2 separate regions of the Homo sapiens genome follow, and region 1 is linked to region 2. Evidence: fine-mapped expression QTL. Tissue or cell type: prefrontal cortex. Region 2 holds a variant in brackets; the other region holds the start of a gene. All regions are shown on one strand. Distances are between the middles of the regions.

Evidence for each region. PIP is the estimated chance that this variant, and not a neighbour inherited with it, causes the effect.
Region 1: GNRHR starts here. The variant in region 2 is fine-mapped to the expression of GNRHR in prefrontal cortex (CommonMind, PIP 0.94).

Annotation. Positions count from the first base shown.
Region 1 is chr4:67,752,567-67,756,737 of GRCh38, forward strand. It overlaps GNRHR (gonadotropin releasing hormone receptor), which reads right to left and starts at 1,822. Exons shown (of 3, transcript NM_000406.3): 1 at 1,248-1,822. The coding sequence starts at 1,769.
Region 2 is chr4:67,191,407-67,195,766 of GRCh38, forward strand. No RefSeq gene overlaps it. Among named protein-coding and RNA genes, the nearest start is that of CENPC, 350 kb to the right of the region's middle. The variant A/AAAAAAAAC (reference allele first, on the strand shown) is at 1,844.

The DNA.
Region 1 (4,171 bases), 560 kb after region 2:
AAATCACCTCATTTCAGGTGATATATTTGCTAAACTTATTCTTATGTATTGCATCACTGTGAAATAAATCATATATTTTTCTTCAGAAAATGAAAACATTTTAGTTTTTCCCATTATTCTTATTATGAAACACACACATATTCAAAAGAAATATTAAAGTGAGAAATTGATGGGATAAAACAGTTATCCAGCTTTCTAGTGTCTTGTGCTATATAGTGAGTTCTGCATGGCAGTTTTTTTTTGTTGTTGTTGTTTTTTAACCATCTGGTCAGTAAAAAAAAGTCTAGATAAATTTCCATTTTCAGAGGCAAGTTTTGGAGGATCCTAGTTAATTCTGATTTATTTCTTGACACATCCTTGTATCCTGGGTTTATCATGTAGTACATTTAAATGCAAGAGAAAACTTGTTCATCTGCTATTAACATTCTTTGTTATTTTCAAGAATTTGTCCTTTTCTTCGGGGATCTGATTGTTAAAATGGCAGGTTCAGCAGGTCAGTTAACTAGGCTGCTTCTGGTGAAGGCAACCTGGAAAGATAATTGCCCTCTGTGGGGAGGGCCTGTGCCTACTCTGTCAGTCATATGGCTTTCTCAATAAGCTGCCTCCAGCAAAACTCAAGCTAACTTTAGGGAAATATTTGGATTTCCAAACATCCAAGATGTCTTACTTTTCTTCTATATTCAGTCCCACTTAGCTGCAAACTGCAGAGCAACATACTAACAAAGAATAATTCTCTCTAAGCTGCAGTGACAGAATTCTTAAAATTTCCACTGAAGAAACCCTAAATAAGAAACATTATAAATATTTTCTACCTAGGCAAATTTCATAATTCCTAAAAATTATCTCAACTAAACATTAAAGCCATGTCAACCAAAACAAAAAGAAAAACAGATAAAAGAATAGGATGGAGATAAGGTCAAGTTTGAGAATCGCATTTTTTTTGGGGAAGCATTTGCTACATAATAGAGATTATGTGAGCTACTTTATTTATTTATTCATCACAAAAGCAGTATTAAGTAAGCATTAACCCCCATGTTACATTTTATCGGTAAAGGAACTGAAACCAGAGAGGTTAAGAAGTTTGCCCAAGGTAACAGAACAGAGCCAGAATTAAACTTCACTCTCTGACTTCCAGAACCCAAGCTCTTAAAGGTAATACAGTACTTCCTTTGATAAGACCTTATATCAAATTTAGATAGGAAATCTATGATCACCATATCCAAATAAGTTTGTGTATAATGGCTTACCTGTGGTCCTGCAAAGACACTACTGAGGATCCAGGCCAGGCCAACCATGGACTGTCCGACTTTGCTGTTGCTTTTCAAAGCTAGGGGCCTCGTGATAGCCAGGGAGCGGTCCAGGCTGATCACCACCATCATGAAGGCTGGGGCATACATGGAGAAAAGCTTTAGATAACTGAGAACTTTGCAGAGTAACTCTCCAGCATACCATTGGACTGTAATGTTCCACATCCCATCCAGTGGCATGACAATCAGAGTCTCCAACAGGTTGGCTAAGGTCAGATGTTTTAAGAGCAGCTTCATTCTTGAGAGCTTTTTCCCTTTCTCTTTCTTCTGTGTCCACTTCTGAAGTTTCAACAAGAAAGAAGCATTAAAGGTCGCAGAGAGCAGAAAAAGGAAGAAAGTAACCGTCACTCGGATCTTTCCAGACAAGGTCAGAGTGGGGAGGTTGCCCTGCATCAGTGGGATGCTGTTGTTGATGGCTGAACAGTGATTTTGATTCTGTTCAGGAGAGGCACTGTTTGCCATATTTTCCCAGGACAGAGCTTCAAGCCTTGTGTCTCTGGTGCATCTGATATTTTATTGTAACCGAATCTAAAGTCCTGTTTTATTTCTGCCTTCTTTAGATGGAAACGTCACAGGTTTAGACGTATGTCAAATTTTGTCCCTGAGATACTTAATGTGAAAGATCAAGGTTAACTTGTTTTGTGTATTGGTAATCCAACAGAGTGCTAAAACAGAGCAGGCCAAATGCATTCTGAGGGCCACATGTAACTGTAGCACCTCAGCAGATGGTCTGGCTTTCACAACACTCTTCCTAAGTGAAGAAGGATAGTCACAGCCTAATTTTGAATTTAAAAGTCAGTCATGATATTATGATTTAAATAACTTTAAAAAATTTTTCTAAAAACTATTTAGTGTTAGTGTTCTGTCCAACATACAGATGTATAATGATAATGAAGAAAAATGAAAACAACTAGATCCAATTAAAATCCATTGTCTTAAGGAATTAACACATTTCTCAAAAACATTTCTTTGTTTTCCTTTTCAAACACACTGTTGAGCACTCGAACACTGGACAAATATATTCACTTAAAATTATTCTACAACAAATTAAAACTTTAAATTAGAATCAATCCAACTGACTGCATTCAAATTTATTAATCAATCTTACTGATCCAATCCATGCTTAAGTTAGAGTAAAACGGTTAATCAGTTTTTAAATTATTGCCTTGGTTTTTATAATTATCTAAATATTGTAGTTGCTGTTATTACACATTAATGCATAAGGAAACTAGTTATTGAAGAGAATACTGTGTAACTGCTGTAAGTGCATTTATATGTGTTTATGTTAGTATAATATGAATATGTTCTTTTATAGGTTATCTGATCATTTCAAATTGGGACCACTTAGGAACTTTTTCTGTGTTGTTTCTTTAACTTTCATGGTGAGTGCTGGATAGTTATTCATCAATACTGGTAAGACTTACATTGGAATTTATTAAATCACCAGCTTGATTTGTCTAATGCCAACAAGTTTGCTTCTGCAGCAGCCAAAGCAGGTACAATGTTAAGGATAAAAGTGGCTATTTTGACTTAGATGGTGCATTCTTATTGGTTCATTTATTATACTTGTTTATTCTGTCTTAAATATTTATTTATTTAATAAATAGTTACTAAATATTTACTATATACATTATCTTAGCCTTTGCTGGTGATAAAAAGTGAACACAACATCATCCAGCCCCTTTAAGGAGCTTGTTACCACAGAAGGTTAGATAAATGTTTTAGATATATCTTATGTATCTCCTCAGCTTCTCTGTGTACTGGCTGTCTCCTGAATCTTGAGCAGCTTAGACCAGTCCTGTACCTGAGCTCCTTTTTGACTGTCACTATATGTCCAGAATTACCAGCTTCTCTCACTACTTCCAGACTTGAAATATTTATATCCTCTATTTATATAGAGTATCAAGGAAAGAGATTTTCTCACACCTGAGATTTGTGACCATAAAATTTTTACCTACGTCAAAACTAAGTTCTGACTCATCTAGGAGAATTACAAAAAAAAAATTGTGCCTACTATATTAGCTATAATAAGTTCCTTATAAGCAATCAGTCTTGAATAAGATAATTTATTTTTCTGAAGAACTCAAAAGGCTTTGCATATACATCATGTCAGTTAATCTGATCAGGGCCATATGCCTGAAATGAACAAAACAGGATAACCATTGGAAAGACATACAAATATGAAAAGTGTTTGTAAGTGGACCAGCAACCAAAAAACAAAGGAAAGAACATTTATGTAAAAATCCAATTTTAGTGAAGTATATTTTGCTCTTTGTCTTCTATATCTAGGGGAAAAAGATTAGAGCATATCATTCATTATTTGTCCCTTTTCCTCCCATTCCTTCCCTTCCCCTTCCTTCCCTTCCCTTCCCTTCCCCTTCCCTTCCCCTTCCCTTCCCCTTCCTTCCCTTTTCCTCCTTTCATTCCTCTCTTCCTCCCTCCCTCCCTCCCTTTCTTTGTTAATGATGGACTGATTCATTAGGGAAGAGGTTGCAACCGAGCTGAATGGGACTACAGCATATAGCGTAATAAGTGGCTGGGGAATGGGGTATGAGGACAGGGAGGGCATGCTTAGAAGCTGGAGCAGCACATGCAAACACGAAGACAATGTGAGAAAGTTCAAAGGGTATGTGAAAGCAAAAGTGTAAATAATTAGGCAGACTTCAGATCTGGAGAGCCTATATTCCAAGAAAAGGAGTTTAGGCTTTACCTATATAAAGAATGGAGTAATATACTCCTTTCTTTATATATACTTAGTGTATTGTGTAGCATACAGAGAATGCCTTGAAGGGATTTGGGAAATAGTGGGCAATCAAAATTCAGGGAGGTTAATCTATTTGGAAAACCCTTGCTATCAACACAAC
Region 2 (4,360 bases):
AAAAATTAAAAATAAAATTATGCAAGAGTAGGTAAACAAAACAAAACAAAAAGATATTCTAAATGAATAGAAAGGACAAGAAAGATATGCTCCAGAAATGGCCACGAAGGGTGTTGAGGGTGTAATTTGTACATTGTACAAATTGTACGTTCAGATTTTGCCTTTCCCTAAAGATTCCTTCAGCACGCTGTGTTGAAGTATGGCTATCAGTATTCCACTGACAAGACAGAGCTCCACATTTTTGCTATTTTGTTCACATTTATCTTAAAAATCTTGGTTTCCCTAGGGCTATCTCTGACCTCTAGCTCTCGATTCTAGAACCACCTTTCTTATCTGAGATTATAGATTTTGAGTGCATCTAGGTCATCCCTGCTTATCATGTAATATCCTTTCCTAAGGTACGCTCCTGCCTTTCTTGTAAAACAACCTTCTCTTAGGTCCCTTTTACATGCCCCCATTTTTAAACAATATCTGTGCTATGCATGTTAACTCGTCACCACCTCAACCCCCATCTTTCAATGAGTACTCTGGGAAAACGTTTTTATTATCCTGAAGCAAGAGCCTCTGAAGTTACACTGAGAAAAGTTTCAGTTATATCAATGTCTATTGCTGCAGGGGTACATTTTTCACCTAATTTCTCTGATATCTGTTCTCTTAGCTACCCTGAAGGAGATAAGCTGTTCTATTAACAAACAGGGCAGGCTATGTCTTCCTAGTTATCTCTAAACTGAACTATATTTCCACTAATTAAATTGGACTCCCTCTACTGAAGAATCAGAGCCTACACTTGAGGCTTTCTTCTAAATTTGTGTTCACTCTTTCCCTTTAAATCTTCCCATCAGCTTGCCTTGAAACTAAGATGTCCCCCTCAAACCTCTGCTTGTTCTCTTTGTCCAAAGACTTATATATGCCTCAAAGTTGTGGTTAGACTCAAGCTTGTCTCTAAAAGGATATATCCAGTACATCACTTTTTTTCGGATAATTCTAACTTTTCCTTTAGCCTTTTGGAAAACTTTCTAACTTTCCTTTATCTCTCCATTTCTACTGGGAAGAGAAAACTGCTTTCTGCTGCTGATGGTTTAAAAAATAATAATTTCTTATTAAAAATAGTCATGCGTAGCTATGCAACACATTTTAGAACAGCCTACCAGGCCAAATATATAGAAACAATCTTACAATAAGTAAAAGTAAGTTACAGATCAGATTTGCATTTCGAATAAGTTCATTTAACAAGTTAAAGCCTTCTAATCCCAGACTACGGAGGATGTAAAGTATAGACACCCTTTACCAGCGCAATAACAATGACCCCTAGAACTACTAGCCTATCTATTTACCCAGCAAGAAAAAACAGGCATGCATTAAGAGTAAGTGGGAACACGAGGATTTGTATCCCTTGCTTCCCCTTCTCTATCCTTCAGGTGACCCCAAGAGTCACACTGCCGGTAGCATTTCTATCACAATAAGACTGCTACTGCTCCATGAATGTGGCCTACATGGAAAAAATTAGAGATCTGCACCCTAATAGCAAAACAAATCCAATTATGTACCAGCAATTTTAATGCCTTTCCAAGATTGAAGTAGCTCACTAAACCTCAGAGAGTAAGGATCCAGGGAGCATGTTTATTTATTTATACCATGCCTCCCTCCAAATAGGATTTGAAGCAGTTCAGTGAGCCTGTTAATAATGCTTATTCTCAAAACCCTATTTACTGTGTTGTGCTGCAGCAGATATCATTACCCCTGTTTGCTCTTAGAAAACCTGACTCTGGGGAGGGTAGTTTGTTTATTGTGGGATTTTCTGAAATTCAGAAGGGATCTTGAGGTCTGACAAAAAAAAAAAAAA[A/AAAAAAAAC]AAAACTCCCATGGGATATGTGAGAAGAAGGGAAGGAAAGAACCCAAACATTGGGGTGGAACCACCCTGGTAGGGGAGGGCAAGAGGAACCGAACCAACAAGGTTCTAGGATTCCCAGGATAGTGCTGATCATAGAGATCAGGGCCCACAGGGGGTCCTAGCCAGGAAATGGGACTTGGAAAATTATTGAAGAATTGTGCTCCTGACACCAGAGAATGTTGCCTATGTATTCAATTATTAATTTTTTCTTTTTGATATTTGTGATTAGGGCACTGTGGAGTTTGGAAACTTCTGCTGCCTAGAAATGACTATTTTCCATGTTTCTGGGTGGGAATTCAGGTGGAGAGAGAAAAGGCATTGCTGAGGGCTCACCAGGCATCACATATTGTGATGGGTATTTTGCATATAGAGTTTCAACAGATCCCAATAAGAAATCTGCAAAATTGGAGTTATTGTTCCCCTTTTGTAGATGAGGAAACTGATGCAGAGAGAGAGCCAATTCATCAGAGGCAGCTAATAACTGACAAAGCTGAAAGTAGAATATTTAAAAATAAAGGATCTAGATAAGACCTTTGTGTAAGAGAAAAACTTCTGAGTGATTTCTTACACTGTGCTCAGCATATAGTAGGCACAAGGCTATAGTGTCTGCTTGCAAAATTGACACAAAAATATAAAAATAAGCCATTCAATAGATATTGACTGAGTGCCTACTATGTGCCAGACACTATGAATCAACATAGAATAAATTCTACACTAAAATTACAATTAGAATGTAAATCGGCTTTAATCTATGAAAATGAAATTAGGCCAGCAGGGAGTCTATCAAATGAGACTATTAAAATACATCCCATAAGAGGAAGAGCAAGCAGGAAAAAATCAGGCGAAGGGACGATGAGATAATGTAATTTTAAAATTGGCTCTTGTTCTCCTGAAATACTTTTAAGATATTACTGCAAAATTACACAGTCAACAGGAATATGTCATTTTTAAAAGACTTTCTCACTCAGGTCAGTGCATAAATAATAATATGTTTTTTAAAATGTATGACTATTCATTAAACCATTGACCACTTCCAGCCTATTAAGTATGTAAGTATTTTAAAAATTACTTTAATACATATTTACCCAATAGACCAGAAAAGTTCCTTTGGTCCACGATGTGCATTTTAAAAGCTGCCTACACAAGGAGTTATCTGATTGAAGCTAGAGCCTGCTGCCAACTACATAATACGCATTTTAAAGAACAACCTAATTATGTGCTTACCCAAGAGAACAAAGTTAATACTGAGGGTCAATAGTTATTACCTTCCTTTACCATCTTTTATTCTTTTCTGTCAAATAAAATGGGAGGGGAAGTTTATGTCTGCTCTCTTATCTATTTTCTCTTGACAACTCATGTTCCAATGTTTTTTTCACCCCTACCTTCAAAAAAACAAAATAAAGGAAGGAAGGAAGGAAAGAAAGAAGGGAGGAAGGAAGAGAAGGAGGAAGGGAGCATGGGAGTAAGGAAAGGAGGTAGAGAAAGAAGGTGGCAAGAAGGAAGGAGAGAAAGGCAAAAAAAAAAACAAACATATAATTAAAAGTGAGTGCCTGGCTTATAACAAACAGGAAAGATCAAAATTCCATCCCTTTATATTATTTTATCTGAAAGATCAAAAGTCCACTTCTTAATTTATATTATTTTCTCTTTTCTAACAGTTTAACCTATATACTCCTTATTTCCAAAATTATCTAGTGTCCTCTGTTTATTGGAAATATTACCTTTCCCCATTTTCCTTGGTAAGACAGAATGATATAGGTTCCTTTCTTCACTTGCACAAAACAAAAATTCTATGTTATTTAAGTCATTGAGTCTGTTTCCAATGGCACAATATAAAGGGTTTCTCAGCAGAAAATCCATTCTCGTGCATACAAATATAAAATCAAAAACTGTATTTTCTACCTGGCACAATGGCTCATGCCCATAATCCCAGCACTTTGGGAGGCCAAGGCAGATGGATCACTTGAGGTCAGGTGTTTGAGACCAACCTGGTCGACATGATGAAACCCAGACTGTACTAAGAATACAAAGATTAGCAGGGCATGGTGGCATGTGCATCTAATCCCAGCTACTCAGGAGGCTGAGGCAGGAGAATCACTTGAACCCAGGAAACAGAGGTTGCAGTGAGCCACTGCACTGTCTCCTGGGTGACAGAGCGCAACACCATCTCAAAAAAAAAAAACAAAAAAAAAACTGTATTTTCAACAGGCAGACTGACAGGCTTACTAGTTTCTCTGCTTAGTGTCCTCATTTTGCCACACTGGCAGTAGCAATACCACCCCACCTTTGAAAGGGACCTAATAGACCAACAGAACAAGGTTGGCAGTTTCCCCATAGGGATATTTCCCCTTAACTTTTGGTGATGTATAACTACCTATTTAGCTCTAATGAATATAGCCAAAATGGAAATATCACCTCTTATTTAAGTAGTAGATGTCAGCTCCTCATGAAACAGTAAGTTACGGCTGTGAATACCGA